Regions from separate parts of the Homo sapiens genome. Here region 2 is linked to region 1. A link means that fine-mapping ties the variant in region 1 to the expression of a gene that starts in the linked region. Tissue or cell type: blood mononuclear cells. Region 1 holds a variant in brackets; the other region holds the start of a gene. All regions are shown on one strand. Distances are from middle to middle.

What was found. PIP is the estimated chance that this variant, and not a neighbour inherited with it, causes the effect.
Region 2: BCL6 starts here. The variant in region 1 is fine-mapped to the expression of BCL6 in blood mononuclear cells (TOPMed, PIP above 0.99). The same link has a PIP of 0.9 or more in monocytes.

What each region holds. Positions count from the first base shown.
Region 1 is chr3:188,413,049-188,421,155 of GRCh38, reverse strand. All of the region lies in intron 4 of LPP (LIM domain containing preferred translocation partner in lipoma), which reads right to left. Among named protein-coding and RNA genes, the nearest start is that of LPP-AS1, 150 kb to the left of the region's middle. The variant A/T (reference allele first, on the strand shown) is at 3,161.
Region 2 is chr3:187,741,645-187,749,751 of GRCh38, reverse strand. It overlaps BCL6 (BCL6 transcription repressor), which reads left to right and starts at 4,284. Exons shown (of 10, transcript NM_001706.5): 1 at 4,284-4,342. BCL6-AS1 (BCL6 antisense RNA 1) reads right to left here and starts at 6,083. Exons shown (of 2, transcript NR_173091.1): 1 at 5,708-6,083; 2 at 3,726-4,508. RefSeq lists enhancers at 4,646-5,171, 7,562-8,061, 8,062-8,107.

The DNA of each region.
Region 1 (8,107 bases):
AGTCTAAAGAACACAATTTGGTTCAAACAAGTTATGCCTGAATCTACTCTGGACTACTTTTTACCTGTATGGTCTGGGGCAAGCCACCTCACCACCAAGCTTCCCTCTCTTCAACAGTAAAATGGGGGGTGAGGGGGTACCATCTAATTCAGCAGAAAGAACCCATGCCCTATTCATTTCTATGCCCTGCCTTACACATGCACAGCTCAGGCAACATGTGCAAATATTTGTTGTGTGAATAAATTAAATATATACATATATAAAATGTGTTTAAAAACCATGTATCATGATATAATTGTGTACACGTTACACTTTCTACTGTAGTTACTACCACCACCACATACTCAGTTTTTGCTACAAACACAGCCTAGTAATGTTGGTAAGAGCAGAAATAAAAACCTGTTTTGTTTATTCAAGCAGCAACAATATAACTGGCTTGAGAGACTGGTGACCCCTAGACAGAGATGTTACTTTTCTTAATGGGTAAGTTAAGAATCTCTTCGAGGGTCTGATGGTGTTGTGAATGCTTTCCCTAAAAAAGACATACACGCAGACTAAGTTTAAATACAATTTCAGGAGACTGGCTTAATCCAAAATATGAATCTCAAAAACGAATGGAACCCAAAATAAAATCCCTAATTAAATTAATTTTTCTGAGATTGTGTAGTTAATAATCCCTAAAATCTCTCTGTAGCAACTGACATTTTGGAAAATTAATTTCTTTAATTAATAAAAATCAATAGTTTCTTTCTGAAATGTTCATTTACATTTTAACTGTACTTATAGTTCAATAGTAAAAACACTACTTTTCAAAGAGATAATATAAACATGAATCATTTTTTGCCACATTGACAAAGTTCAAGTAAAGTAATTCTACTTCTAACAAAGGTGTAATGCAAATTCAAAAAAGGAATCATAATTCTAGCAAGGACAAACATACACCAAGCCAATTCTAAAATCTCTATTAGCAAATACAAAAAGAAACAAGGATACAACTAAGATTATTTTTTAAATGGTCAGCATGAGCTATATGGGATTTTATAATTAAAATTTTATAATCAGAATTTTTTAAAAAAAACTATGGATAGAACCCTCAGAGCTAATGTTCATATTTTCATTTCAATAATAATAGCAAGAACAATGATTGCAGCTTCCACTGATTTTGTCATTATTTTGTCATGACTTAACTTTGAAAACAACTCTTTAAGATACAAATATCTCTATTTCATTTATTCATATATTTATTTATTATTTTTATTTATTCATTTATTTGAGATGGAGTCTTACTCTGACGCCTAGGCTGGAATGGAATGCAGTGGCTTACAGCAACCTCCACCTTCTGTGTTCAAGTGATTCGCCTGCCTCAGTCTCCCAAGTAGCTGGGATTACAGGTGTGTGCCACCACGCCCGGCTAATTTTTGTATTTTTAGTAAAGTCGGGGTTTTGCCATGTTGGCCAGACTGGTCTTGAACTCCTGATCTCAGGTGATCCACCCTTGGCCTCCCAAAGTGCTGGGATTACAGGCGTGAGCCACCACGCCTAGTGCATAACTATCTCTATTTTAAAACTGAAAGAACTTAGGTTGCCACTTATCCTGGTGAGTCCAAGTTTCCAGAGAATTAAGAGGTAAAATCAAAACTCGAAACCCAGATCTATCTGATGCCAGAGTCTACAAGCTTAACCACTGCCTCCCTGAGTCTTTCTTCTCTGTAACCTTCCAATACTACCTTGGCTCCAAGCAAACTCTTTCTTCTGATAGAGTTAGCCATGGAGTCACTTCACAAATAGAAGCTGTACAGTAAAGCTTTATATTGTTAGTTAACTGGGCATTTTCATATGTTGAATTTCTAATGAAAATATAAACTGTTTAAGGGCTAAGACGTGTTTTTACTTTTTCCTGTCCACTACAGAGCCTGGTTAAGTAACAATGGCACAAGATGGAAGTGAATAGGACCCAGTAAAAGAACGGAATTTAATGCAGATGTCAAGATATAAAACAGTGAAATCTTATCTACCAGGAATCACATTGGGTGGCATTCATGACACTTTACTCTCACCTCAAGTGGTGATATTTCTGGGAGACCTCATAGAACTTGGAGATTTCTTTCCCAGGAGGTAATTTTTACAGAGGATGCCCTTACTAAAACCCAAGTCATTACAACATTAACAGATCAATAATAAAAATAATGACGAATTAAAATGCCATTTCTATAGAACGGTAAAAAATAAAATAAAATGTCATTTTAATTCCATTGTAATGTCAATAAAACTACCCCTGATATCTGAAAAGTTTAAGCAAGATGACACAATTCAACTGAACTAAGGAAAATTCCAAATGGTTATTCCAAAGGTCTTGTCAAATAATGTCGCCTTGAGACACTATTTGAGAAACTTGGTAATAACTTCTTGAGACTACTTTGGCTGTTTTATATTTGTATACATCATAGACATCCATGCACAGGAGATTGATTTTAAGCAATTTTCACACATTATTTGGATGACCTTAACCTTCAAATCGCTCTGGATAGTAATAATTCGGGAAAATAATGATGGAAAAATTATTTCATTTAATACAAGTAATAATGGCATTAACATGAGATACAGTGTACTGCTGAGGAACAGCTACAGACTTGGATTTAGGAGACAAGGGTTCAATTCCCAGCTTTGCAATATGCTAGTTATTTCACTTTACATACATTATACTTGGCAGATTGAGGGTGATAATAACTTTTTTACAGAGTAGCTAGAAAGATAAAGTAAGCAGTAAAGCAAAGTGGACTTCAGATGAAATGGAAGCTAATAAATCCACTACAATATTTTTCAAATAGTTAAGATACTGTTCTGCCAGATAAGTTGTTTTAGTAATTGTAATAATTCATTATTACCAAATAGTGTTTATCGTACATTACCAATACTTAAGGGAAGATACTAAAATTTGGTCAAATGTGACTTCTACATTTATTAGCCTAACCTTGGGTCTCTGAATCACAGATTTTTCATTTGTCTTTAGGAACCATAATAATGTAGGAACTATAATAACGTTGCAGGATATTCTGGTGATTAAACTAGATATTATGTGAGAAAGTGCTCTAAAATTTATTCACATTTGTGCACACTCATACAAACACATTTTAAAATTACAAGTTGTAATGAACATTTC[A/T]CAATAAAATCCTTCTTTCATTGCTTCCTGTTTTCTCAGGATTACCCCAACGTGTGAACAAGTAAGAGAGCAAAACAAAACAAAAAATGATTAAGTTAGCTTACAACTCCATTCTTAAGCGTGTGTGTTTGACTAGGTAAAAAAAGCTGCCTGAAATTATTTCAGGAGATTTAAAGAGAATTGCCTTTTGCTTTTTCTTTCTTGCCTTAGCATTTGTATGCACAGGCACATTTCATTCTAAAATATAACAGACAAGTGCAGAGAGATAGCAATAGTACTTCTGGCCAGTACCTCCAGGAAAGTACTTCTTGCCTGTGGTATAAGATCATATTTCTTGGTCCTTCCTCTCTGAAGCTACCTAACTTCCTGGAGCTATTTCTAGAGGTAAGTTTCAGAGCACGCTAGAACATTTAGGTCTACCCATAGTGAAGTCACTCTGTTCACATTGCAAAGCTATTCCCAGGAGCCCAGATGCATTGCCTGAGGACATCAGCAAAGAGCTGCCAAAATTACAAGGGTCAGGATGGGGGCCATTCTCTGCTTTTGCACATGCTGTTCCCTTTACTTGGCATGCCATGCTGTCCACCACCCTTTTCTGCTTGGTAAACAACTAACTCATTCTCCAACACTCAGATCAGATGTGTCCTCGTCTGTGATGCTTTCCCCAGTTCCTCCTAGAGGACATCCTTCATATTATATTACGGCACTAAATTTACATAATGCAATTTTTATGCACATGTGGTGCCTGTTATATGTCTATCTTGACTAGTAGACTTATCTATTCTGTTTGAAGACAGCGACATACAGAACAATGTAAAGAACATATAATAAGGGAGAGTGCTGGAAGAGCAAACTGCTAGAAGACTCAGGATGCCACATCCCAATGACCTATACTCCTCTGCCCCAGGTGCTGTCCTCAGCCATCAGGTCTCTCTGAATGCAGTAATTTTAAGAAAGGATGATAAAAATATCATACTGATTTTTTTTAAGTTCTTTAGGTTAATCGTTATTCTAGGGTATGATTTCTTTATATGGTATATTTGCCCAAAGGCTCAGGTGTCAGATTTATTTTTATAATGTCCATAATGAATCCATTTTTAGATAATTTACATAGGCCTACTGTGACCCAAAATTGGCTGAGATTTCAGGCATTGCTACCCAAAGCAACACAATAGCAAGAGCTCTGTAATGCAGAAGCTTGTCCATGGCTAGGGCATTCTCGAAGAATCCATTTTTTTGTTGTTGTTTGAAATTTTCTGGTTTTGGATCCCAAATAAAATGACCCAGGACAACATATGCAAACGATTGGTGTCTATAATGAAAGCACTGAGGGAAAAGAATAGCAACATGAAAGATGCTCTAGGTCTCTGAATCTGTACAATGTTCACAAGATAAAGACTCTCAAGACTTCAAAAGCTACCATCATTAACTACGGGAGGAAGAGTACACTCTCAGGACTTGGAGAAGGTTCAAAGGAGATTAAGGCACTGGTCCCTGAAGTTAATGAAATAAATGAGTGGTTCCCAAACGTTGGTTGAGCATCAATCACAATTCCCGGGAAGTTCTGTTTTATTTTTTATTTTGCTTTGTTTTAATGCAGATTCCTGGGCCCCATGGCCAGATATTTTGATTCTGTAAAATTGTGATGGGACCTAGGACTTGCTTTAATTTTTTTCTTTTGAAAAATGTTCTCCAAGTCTTTCTGATGACTGGCCAGCTTTGAAAACCACAGGTTTAAGCCATACATTTTGGCAGGGATACATATAGCAGTGATCTTTCAAAGTATCATGCAAGCAATTCAGATGGCATGTAAGATAGCACTTTGAGTAAGAGAAGAATACATTAAGATATCTATATGCATTCCTTTATTTTACTATTATTAATTTTTTTTTAAATATGGACTCATAGAAAGTTGCAAAAATAGTACAGAGTTTCCATGTACATTTTACCCAGGTTCCCTAAATGGTAATGCTCATAAAGCTGTAATACATTCGAAAACCCAGCAAACTGACATTGTTACCTTATTGTTAACTAGGAGTTACTCAGTTTTTACCATTTTATAACCTGCATTGATTTGTGTGTGCATACAGTTCTATGTAACTTTATCCCATGTATAGATTCATGTAATCATCACTCCAATTGAGGTACAGATCTGTTCCACCCATACAAAGACTCTTGCTGCGTCCTCTTTGTAGGAATGACCAGTACTTGCCCCCCCCCGACCCACCCATTTCTGTCCCCTAGCAATCATGAATATGTCCTTTATCTCTAGAGCTTTGTCTTAAAATGAAATCATATAATACATGTAACCTTTCGAGACAGTTTTTTCATTAAGCATGTCCAGGTTATTGCATATACCAACAATACTTCATTCTTTTTTACTGCTGAATGGTATTATTCCATTGTATGGCTGTACCAGACTTCACTGAAACATCTGCCCATCAAAGGATATTTGGGTTGTTTCCAGTGTTTTGTCATTATGATAAAAAAAAAAAAGTTGCTATGAACATCCATGTACAGGTTTTTTCGTGAACATAACATTTTGATTCTCTGGATTAAATGCCAAAGGGTATATTTGCTGAGTCATATGGTTAGTACATGTTTACTTTTGTAAAATACCGCCAAAGAGTTTTCCATCGTGGCTACAAAATTTTGCACATGCCTACCAGCATTGTGAGAGATCATTTCTCCACATCCTTAGCAGCATCTGGTACAAATTTTTATTTTAGCTTTTCTAATACATGTGTGGTGATATCTCTTTGTGGCTCTCTGTTTATTTTTATTATCAAAAAAGCAATTAAATTCTCTTCAGATGTAAAATACGGAGGGACAATAGTATTGTATATTTGTATAATTCAAAAATAAAGATGATTAATATGTATCTCACCACACAAATCAGCATTAATTATTGTTTTTGAACCATACAAGAATTAGGAGGCACCCATCACCTTATTAAGGAACTCATTTCAGTAGTTAATTAAGCTGACAAGTTACAAAATAAAAGAGATTTCTGTCAACAATACAGGGACTTCTCCTTGTTCTAAAACATCCAATCCACTTTGTTCGGGTATATTAGTTCAATCACTGTAACTTCTAAACAAGTCCCCCAAAACGTGTCTATGGCAACCAGAGAAGGAATCCCCAGGATCATGGCTTGGCTTCCCCACTTACTAATCTGCAATACTGAACAAGCCACCTGCCTCTCTGAGTCTCTGAAATGAAGATTAAATTGTTGCCTGCATTCAAGAATTTTCATTGGTTATTTACAGCACTCCTGGGCAAAGAACCTGTACTTCGCTGAAATGTATTAGTGAATACATTCTCAACTATTCTCATCTAGGAAAGAAAGGGGTTGTATTAGATAACTTTTAAGATTCACCCTGGTTCTAGAATTTTACAGTTTATATAGTGTTGAGGCATTGTGATCTCTATCACTGTTGTTAGAAGCTAATGACATGAGTACTTATGGATAACATGCTAAATTATTATTATACTTATATTATCACATATTCATTACTACAGACTAAGTATCGCATATACAAAACATCTGGGACATGAAGTGTTTCAAATTTCAGATTTTTTGGATTTTTGGAATATTTACACATACCAGCTAAGCAACCCTAATCCACAATACTGAAATCCAAAATGTTCCTGTGAGCATTTCCTTTGAGCATTGTGTTAGCACTCAGAAAGTTTCAGATTTTTTCACATTTAAGATTTCAGATTTTTGGATTAGAGTTACTTAACCTATATTAAAGTATTTTTTATAATTTTGAATAGTTATTGGTAATTATATGTAAAGTTATAAAATGCATTTATTAAATAAATTTTATTTCACAAATGTTATCACTATTATTATTAATAATGTTATTTTTATTATAGCAAGAAAATACATCCCAAGAGGGCAGGAACTAGTCTCTGTTTCACTCAGTGCCATTACTTCAGCCCCTAGAAGAGTATCTGGCACAAAATCTGTTTTAAGTAAATGACTGCTGAATAAGTATATAATAGTAACTCCTTAGAGTTATAAGGTATTTTATGGTTTAAAAACATTTTCACATTTATCATCATATTTGGCTTTCAAAACAATCTTGTGAGGCAGTTGGTATTACCAGCTAATATTTTATGAATTAAAGAGGATATGGATTAGAAAAGCATCATGCCCAAGGCCAAGTGATGAAACTGAAGCTTGAATGTAACTGCACTGACCATCAAGCCAGGGCTGCATCTTGGCACTTTTGAGCATCAATAAGGCCTAAGAATATTTGGTAAGATCTGATGTCACTCCAAGAATTACAAGTTAATTTCTCTGCTGAAAGATGCAGTGTAAAGATCAAATTAATACAATTAATATTTGATCCTTTAATGAATACACAGCTTGTTCTTTTGTCCCCCTGAGGACCTGAAAATTAAAACTCATGCACTGCACTGTGCAGTGATGGATGAGGCTCGAGATGCTTACGCTCATCCAGAAAAGGGGCATGACAGGCAAACCCGAGCTTCATTACAGTTCCTGATGTTTCCGTGAATTTGTGGCTATCCTCATGGCATAACACGCATACTTATACCAAACGTCCAAGATGTTACAACTGCAGTCTCTAATTGCAATTAACAGGACTGTCAGGATTACAAAAAGATGTTTCCCATTTGTAACCTCCAAAAAAGATGTTTCCCATTTGTATCTCCAAAGTCAGAGCAAGATTCTCTTTGCATGGGGAAAAGGACAATAAGACTCCAGAGACAGAAAAGCACACCATGAGGACCATACGTTCGCAGCAAAAATAATGGGGAAAATCCAGTCTAAATTATTCCTTTAAATATAATGCCATAAGTGGACATCCATTTCCCTCACATGTTAGTTATCTGCTAAGAAAACAAATGTGTCCTGCCTACCCAGGATACATGGCTTCACATCACTAATGGCTAATTCTCCACCAAGCATCAATA
Region 2 (8,107 bases), 670 kb after region 1:
ATGTCTCAAAACTTTCTGCTCATCTTGCTATGTTAAAAACGCCTTTCTTTCTCCAAGGATACTACAAAAAGCTTGTTTACAACAGTTCTAAATGAAGGATTTGAAATAAAACGAACAGGTAAAATTTAACAAGTCTGATAGATAGTGTCTCCCAAATCTATCAAAAGCAGTGCCAAGTACTTCAATGTAGCTGAGAGGCATAAATAAACCCAAATGACCATCAAAACTCATCATGACTTGGAGTTCGCTCTGAGTTTTGCAGTTTACAAAGAGACCATGGCAGCCTTGCTTCCCTCAGTTCTACAAGGACACAAGATATACACCTACAGACTCAAGTTGTCAGATTACACTGATCCTCTAAAATGACAGAGGGCCAGCAAATCATGCAGACCCATTTTCAGTTGTGTTCCTGGGGTCACACATGCTCCTAGTGAAGACCCAGCCTATAATCCTGAAAGAAGAAAGCCTAGAGAAGGTGATTGATTTGAAAAAGTCTTCCCAGTTTTAAAATCTTTAGTCCTATGATGTGGTATCTTAAAGACCTACCAAGGTGCCAGAGGTTCCTGACAGGTGAAACCAACTTCCTCTTGTGAGCCCCCTTAGAAAGAGGACAGAACCGTGTTTATTCCAAGGATAGGTTCTTTTTCAGCTATGACTGAATTGTGGGGAAGGTTTTGCAAGGGGGAATTGGATGTGAAGTCTGTTCTTTTCCTCAAATAGATGTAATATTAGGACCAGGCTATTTTATTTTGTAATAAAGCTTATATTTACCCAGCAGCAATGATCAGGGACCTATTCTTATGCCCAGTCCATGAGGCAAAGAGGTTGGCCTGGTCCTCTACTGAGTATTAGCAGCCAGTAACCATTAAATCATGGGACTAGTTGAAATGTAGTGCCCCGAAGTCTGCAGGAATTATTCATACGACCCCAGACATGGAATCACTCTTTAGAGCTTCTTAAGGATGATTTAAAAGAATCAGAATACGTTCAAGTCAGCCCTTTCTTTAATCCTGTAACACGGCACTGCGGGAGTGAGGGAGGCCCACATAGTGATGCCAACTGGATACTGAGGAGAGGTCAAGAATGAAAGAAGAAATGACATTCTGGAAGAAATTCAACTGGTATAATATTTGACAAAGTTACTTTCCTAGGAATTGAAAAGAGATTGAGAGGCGGGTGCACAATTTTCCTCACCATTCATTCAGTTCAAAGTAAAAGAGACTCACCGAAAAGTAAGTGCCTATCTTTAGAAAATTTTCAATAATGATTTTCTCTTTCTTTCTAACTGGTCTTCTGTTCTGGTCAATTTCTTTCAGTGTAAACACATTGATTTGGCAAAAAGCAGTAGGAAAATGTGGCACTCTGGCACTTGGTCCCAGAAATAATATGCTGGGAAGATTTGAGGTCCCTGGTGATGAGGTTAATTATATATGAACCAGCCCTGGTGGGTTCTCCCTCTAGGGGCTCACTGCAGAGAATTAAAGAGGGCTGAGGTATGAGAAGGGTGAATTCCTTCCCAGCCCCCACTCTGGCTGGTTCTACTACTGCCTTAGAGAGCAGATTTCCCTTTGCTCTGCAGCGCCCCCATGGGGCTAAGAGTGGAGTGGCAAAGGGAACACAGGAGGGACAAGCTGTGTTTCAGGTTGAGGGGGGCGGTGGATGAGGCTGAATGGCAGTTTTGACAAAGAAAAAAGTGACCAAAAATCATAAAAATAATCTTTTGAGGGCCCAATAGTAAGGCAGAGCCATACAATTCACATTCCAAACCATATAGATACGTCTGAGAAATCCTAAAGTGCTAATTGCTCATAAAAGAAAAAATTACACATATAAACACACAAAGAAAATCCCTTCCACAAAATCGGGGTGTCATTTTGCATCCAGCGGGATTCATTTTAATTTCTTTGAAAATGAGAAGGAAGGGGACTCAAATGAAAAAGCAGATAGTCTGCCTTCTGGCAGAATAAATCTGAACTTGACAATATCATGTGTCTTTGGGGGTAAAACGTACATTTCAACAACAGTGACAGGATTAGGCCTATGTATATTTTTCAAAAACCGTTCACAAGACAGGCTTTTCTGCAGAGGCTGCAGTAATCCATCTGTCAATAAGTATTAAAATATTCAGATTTCACAGGGACAGACACTTTAACGCATATTTCCTAAGCTCCAGCCCTTGTGGAAAATAATCAACCTCTTTGCACCTTTCTGGGTTTTAAAACCTAAAATACAGCCTTTAAAAATGTGTGTGTGTTGTGGGGTAGGGGGGTGCATTGCCAACAACATTTTCGGTGATAGATGGAACTTCTTACGGGACTGTCAATGAAAGAGATTTTCCAAATATCCCAGCAAACAGCAATCTTTCACAGCTCTGATCACTCCTCCATTATAAACCCAAATTTTGGGTTGAGATAGGTAGATTATTTTAGACATATCTTTATTAGAAATTAACAAGTGACGAGATTTTGTGGAAGCTTTAAGAATTCATCTGTAATTTAATAAGTCGCTTGAAGGACTCTCATAGCCAAGGCTCAGAACAGCCTGACCTTTGAAAGCTGCTTCTGGTCCAAACATTTTGGGCTAATTCTTGAGGAATCTGAAATATTATTTTCCCCTCACACCCTTCTTTTAAGAGAGAGACATAAAAGAAACAAGAGTCTCCCTTATTCAGGGATGAGTAGGAGGGGAAAAAACCCGAACCAACATTTAAATAAGGAAACTAGCAGCTCTGAACAAACAAACTAGGACCCACAATGAAATGATTCTGCACTGCAATTGCCTTTAAAAAGAAAGTAATAGAGAAAAAGAGAAGGAAAGAATTTCTCCTTCTTCTCTACCCCCCCCCCACCCCACCCCCCAACTCAGCTTCAAAGCTAAGAAGACTGTGCTGCGTGTAGTGCATTGTAGTTGTGGCAGTCTGTTCTAAATACAGGCAGTATCTGTGATACTGGCACGGCAGGCCTTTAGAATTCCCTCCGGCTGATCTCTTAAACACAGACTGAAGAGATTTTTTTACAACGACCTTGAAACGAGCCTCGAAAACAAAAATCTCAAGACCTTAAGAGAAAACAAAACACAAACAGGTATTTGGCTCACAGAATTTTGTAGAAAACACACACATACCACCCCGCCACCCCCACCCTCCCCCCCACACACACGTTTCTTGCAACAAGAAATTTCCCAAGAGTCAACAATAACAGATTAAACCCACCACTTGCTGTCCTGGAAAGAAACAAACCAAACCAAAACAAATCCTTTGAACATTTCTCTGAAGTGCAGGAGAGACACACTTCAGCAAAAGTCCAAGGGGGAAAAAGAAAATTGCACCAAAGGAAAAAAAAAAAAAAAAAGTGGGGGCTGGGATTGTTACATATGGCCAAAAATTTAAGCTTCTTTCAATAGTATTAGTATTGAAATAATACATCTTTAAAACGCTTGAGGGATTAGATAGGGAAAGAAAAGGCACGTACAAAAAAATCCAACCGATGCCGATCCTGTGATTTACGTAACACCACAAACTTGCAAAAGGCAAAAAATCAGAAGCAAAAATCCATAAACCATCAAAATACAGAAACCAAAAATCCCAAGCCACCACACCAGAAAGAAAAAAACCCAGAACAACAGCAAAAACCCCTGTCCTAAATAAAAATAAAGCAAATGAACCCACCGAAAACTGCTTGGCAAATATTTTTCTCGTGGTGCCTAATATTCTAGTTGGAAAGAGCTGTGATGTTTATTTTATTTTATTTTTCTCTTACTCGCCTCTCTAACCCTACTATATATATAACATACTTTTCCCAGTGGTTCAAACCTCTCGCTCCCTTTTGTGCATTTAGCTCGATCTGCTGAGTTTATGGGTAAGAAAGAAGGAATTAGCCCCAGACCCCGGGAAAGCAAAGCGCACTCCCCCTCTTATGTCACCGAATAGCAAATTAGTTCTCAGAATTCCAGAGGCCGAGCTTTGCTACAGCGAAGGCGCCGACGTCACAGAGGAGGAGCCCACGTGATGGTGGCGGAGCAGGCCATACCATCGTCTTGGGCCCGGGGAGGGAGAGCCACCTTCAGGCCCCTCGAGCCTCGAACCGGAACCTCCAAATCCGAGACGCTCTGCTTATGAGGACCTCGAAATATGCCGGCCAGTGAAAAAATCTTGTGGCTTTGAGGGCTTTTGGTTGGCCAGGGGCAGTAAAAATCTCGGAGAGCTGACACCAAGTCCTCCCCTGCCACGTAGCAGTGGTAAAGTCCGAAGCTCAAATTCCGAGAATTGAGCTCTGTTGATTCTTAGAACTGGGGTTCTTAGAAGTGGTGATGCAAGAAGTTTCTAGGAAAGGCCGGACACCAGGTGATTATTGCTGTTGCTGCCGCCGCTGCTGCTGCTACTGCCGCCGCCGCCGCTGTTGCCGCTGGTGCCGCTGCCGCCGCCGCTGCTCATGATCATTATTTTACCTTTTAATTCTTTTTTTTTCCGCTCTTGCCAAATGCTTTGGCTCCAAGTTTTCTATGTGTATCTATTGATATAAATGTATATATTTATTTATTCTAGCTGTCAGGTGTTAAAATAAATGCCGAAGATTAGTCCCACGTCTCTCCCACCATAGGATATAGATTGTTATGTATTTATTATTATTATTGTTGTCTTTGAGTGAATCGGCCGGTTTGGGGAGGCTTTTGCCACCCTCCCTTGTGTTGTTTTGGTTTTTGGAAAGGAGGTGGAGGAGAGGAAGGAGGGGAATTAGGGGGCGGCCGGAGCAGAGAGGACGAGACAGTGCTTGGGGGGTGATTCGGGCTAGTCTGGGGGCTGTCTGGCCCCAGACCGCGGAGAGGACGCGCGCTCGCGCTCTCGCTCTTTCTGCTGCTGCTTGCGTACGGCTTGTGATCTCTCTGGATTCGTGCGGCTGTGTTTTTTCCCTCTTTTCTCGCTTGCAAACTGCTTTCCTTGCTCCGTCGCTCCTGGCCTCCGCTTCCCTCCCTCCTCTTTTTCCTCGCCTCTTCTTCCTTCCCTTCCCCTGTCCTTCTGGGTAACTCCGGGAGGCAAAAAGGGAGGCTGCCCGCTCGCTCGCCCCGCTGGCTCTCTTCCATCGGCCTCGGTCTTTTAGATTCCCTGCCTTCGAGCCGAACCGAGATTTGGAAGGAAAAAATGCAAGCGAACTCTTTGGGTTTTTGTTTTTGTTTTTTTGGTCATAAATCCAGATGAGATGAAGTATCGTGTCTACTATTTCCTTTCAGAGCCGTGATCTTCCTAATGAGAGCCGAGTGTTTTGGTGTTCCCTGCCCCTGTGTTTTGGGGAGCTTGGGGGCGGGGATGTTGAACACTTTGAAAATTATTCTTTCTTGGTTGTAGTCGAGGGAGTCGGGAACCTCCGCGCGCTCTCCCTGCTCATCCCGAGGAGAGAGACTGATGGCGGGACAGGGCTTCTTGGGGTGGGTGGGAAAGGGGTGCGCACTGCACCTGCGATGCCTTTCAGTGTGCGGGGGGACTCAGGGAACCTCGACAGGACAGCCTGGGAGAACGAGAAAGGTGGCGGGATTTCTGGCCGCTGCGGTGTTTGTATTTTGGGCGCTGCGTGACTCTGTGTTGGCTCCCAATGGCTGTTGCCTCCCTTTCCTAAATTTTATTTTATTTTTTCCCATGGTGCAAGCTCTGTAAAAAGGGAACTGCGGGCCTGAGCGTAGTGGACGCCAGGCTTCAGATTCCCGAGGTCCTTACCTTGGGCGAGGAGAAAGACGAACAGAGCCCCAGCCCGCGTTCCTTATGTGCAAGACTCAGGAGGAGAGAAGGGCACTTTGTGGCCGTGGCTGAGGGGACCCGGCGCGGGAGGAGCGGGCGCGGGCGCGAAAGGGAGATCTTTGTGAGTGATTTTGCAAAAATAGATTGCGAGGTTGGTTGGATTTGCAACCTGTGGCTCTCCTCGAGGGAGTAAGAATGGGGGAAGGCGCGGCGGCGGCGGCCCGGGGAGGGAGTGGGTAGAGTTGGAGCCTCAGAAATCGGCTGAGCTCCGGGGGCGGGCGGGGAGAAAGGGCGGGGGGGCAGCAGGAGCTAGGGGCCACCCCGCTGCCGGATGTAGTGACCGTGGTAAATGTCTTGAGAACTGTGGGTTGCGTTGCCTTTATGATGCCGTGTTATTGGAACCCTGGCGAAAAATGGAACTAGTGTTGCAATAATGAGTTTTAAAGCTCCCCCATGGAAAACAAAAACACAACCAAACCGATTTTTTAAAAAAATGAAAAAAGACCCTCTGTGTTGTGTTCCCTTCTACGATGGTTGTGTTGGTGGCTGGGGTTTGGGGGTGGGGGGTCCTGACAGTTGAGCAGATAAATGACCCCAAACCAGGTGCTGAAAGTCCCAAGCTGTCACAGGGCCCCTGACCACCTCAGAGAGCCAATCTCCACTCCGCGCCCCCTCCCCGCCGGCCCCCGCCACCCCACAACCCGCCAGGATTTAATCTTTTATGGATTTTTTTTTCAGTTTATAGTTTCCAGGAGGAAAGTCTTGTAACGCTTTACTTTTTCTCTTCTTTTTTTAAAGTAAAGTGAGTGTCAGTAGATGTGTTTTTTACAGTCTGGATTTTAAAAAAAGTGGGGCAGGAGAGAGGGAACCAGGGAAAGGGCTGTTTAGAAATACAGTTTGTGGCTCTGAGCGATGCCACCGGCTTCCTCTACAGAGACTGCCAGTTTCCCTTTTTCTTTGCAAGGTGTGTGTGGTTTTAATAAATAACTTAAAAAAAAAAAGAGGGGGCGGCAAGATCCATCAGGAGACAGGTATCTATTTTGCTCACTATTTACTACCAAGAGCCTTTGGCACTAGAACAGAACCTCGTAAATCTGCAGCCCAAGTTGAAGTTCATCTGGCCCTAGTCCACACGCTATTCCTGGAGGTAGCAAACATGAGCTCAAAGAAGAGAGATGAAATCACATTCTTGCTTTAAAATATATACTTTTTTAAAAAAGACGAAAAGATATTTGTCTCTGGGGGAGGAGGAAATGGCGAACAAGTACCAGGAGATGGGCATTCCCTTACTCTAATGACTGCAGTTGAGTCTTCAGGCCAAAATAGAAACCTGTAGATGGCAACTCTCTCTCCACCTCCCCGCCCCGCCCGCCACCCCAAGCTTATAAATAGAAGTTTCCAGTATCCTATTTGGAAGACTTTCCAATACTAGAGGCCGAAGCATTGGCTAGTTTTAAGGGTTGTTGATAGTGACAGTAAGGCTAGATGCTGTTCATAAAAACTGGGCGACTTGAAGGAGACAGCCAGAAAAAGTGGGAATTCTCCAATTGCCCCTTTCTTCTTTTCAGTTTTGAAGGGTTTTATACCAATGCTTTCTTGAAAAGACTAACTTATTCTGGGTTTGGTGGATAGGGATGGGACTCTAAATGCTTAAGTTGTCGTTTGCTGAGCCCTTGAAGAGTTCCAGTTATTGGTTGAGTAAATGGTAGCCACGGCTAGATGTCAAAACCCTTCCTTCCCTCTATCCCCTACAGGGTAATGACACTCACAACCCACTTTGTTGTGAAAAACTTAAGAGATATAGAGGAGGCGGTGCAGCAGCGCCACCCCTCGGTGGGTGAAACTATTGGCAAAAGTCAATTTTTGAAAAATATTGGGAAGTGAACTTATGAAACATTTTTCCCCCAGAGATTTAAAAAAAATAGGGGAGATAAAACTAACGGATAAAAAGGACTTTGAAGTTTATCAAGTAGGGAAGAAAAATGTTGCTTTCCAACTAGGATGGTGTTATAATAGGCAACGTGGTTCTAAGGTTTTTTTTTTTGGTGGGGGGAGGGTGCCTGGTTGATTTTAAGTAGAAGAGTTCTCCAGGCGGAGGTAGCCCGGCCTTCCCCTTGGATTGACTTCTCAGGGCATCTTAATTCTGCTGCCTGTCTGATACCGAGATAGTGAGGGATGTTTTGGTGTAAAACACCATAGTGGCTGGAAATGCTGTAGTTTTGCCGGCGGTGGCAGGACGTATGTGTAGGGGGTGTGTTGAGGAGGTTTGTGGATGGCGTGGAGCAATGGTAGGCTGGTCTGTAGCCCTCTGTGAATCAACATCGAATGGCGCGTGCCGGTTTCCAGCACTGCGCAACAAGTGGGACCGCCGCTGCCGCC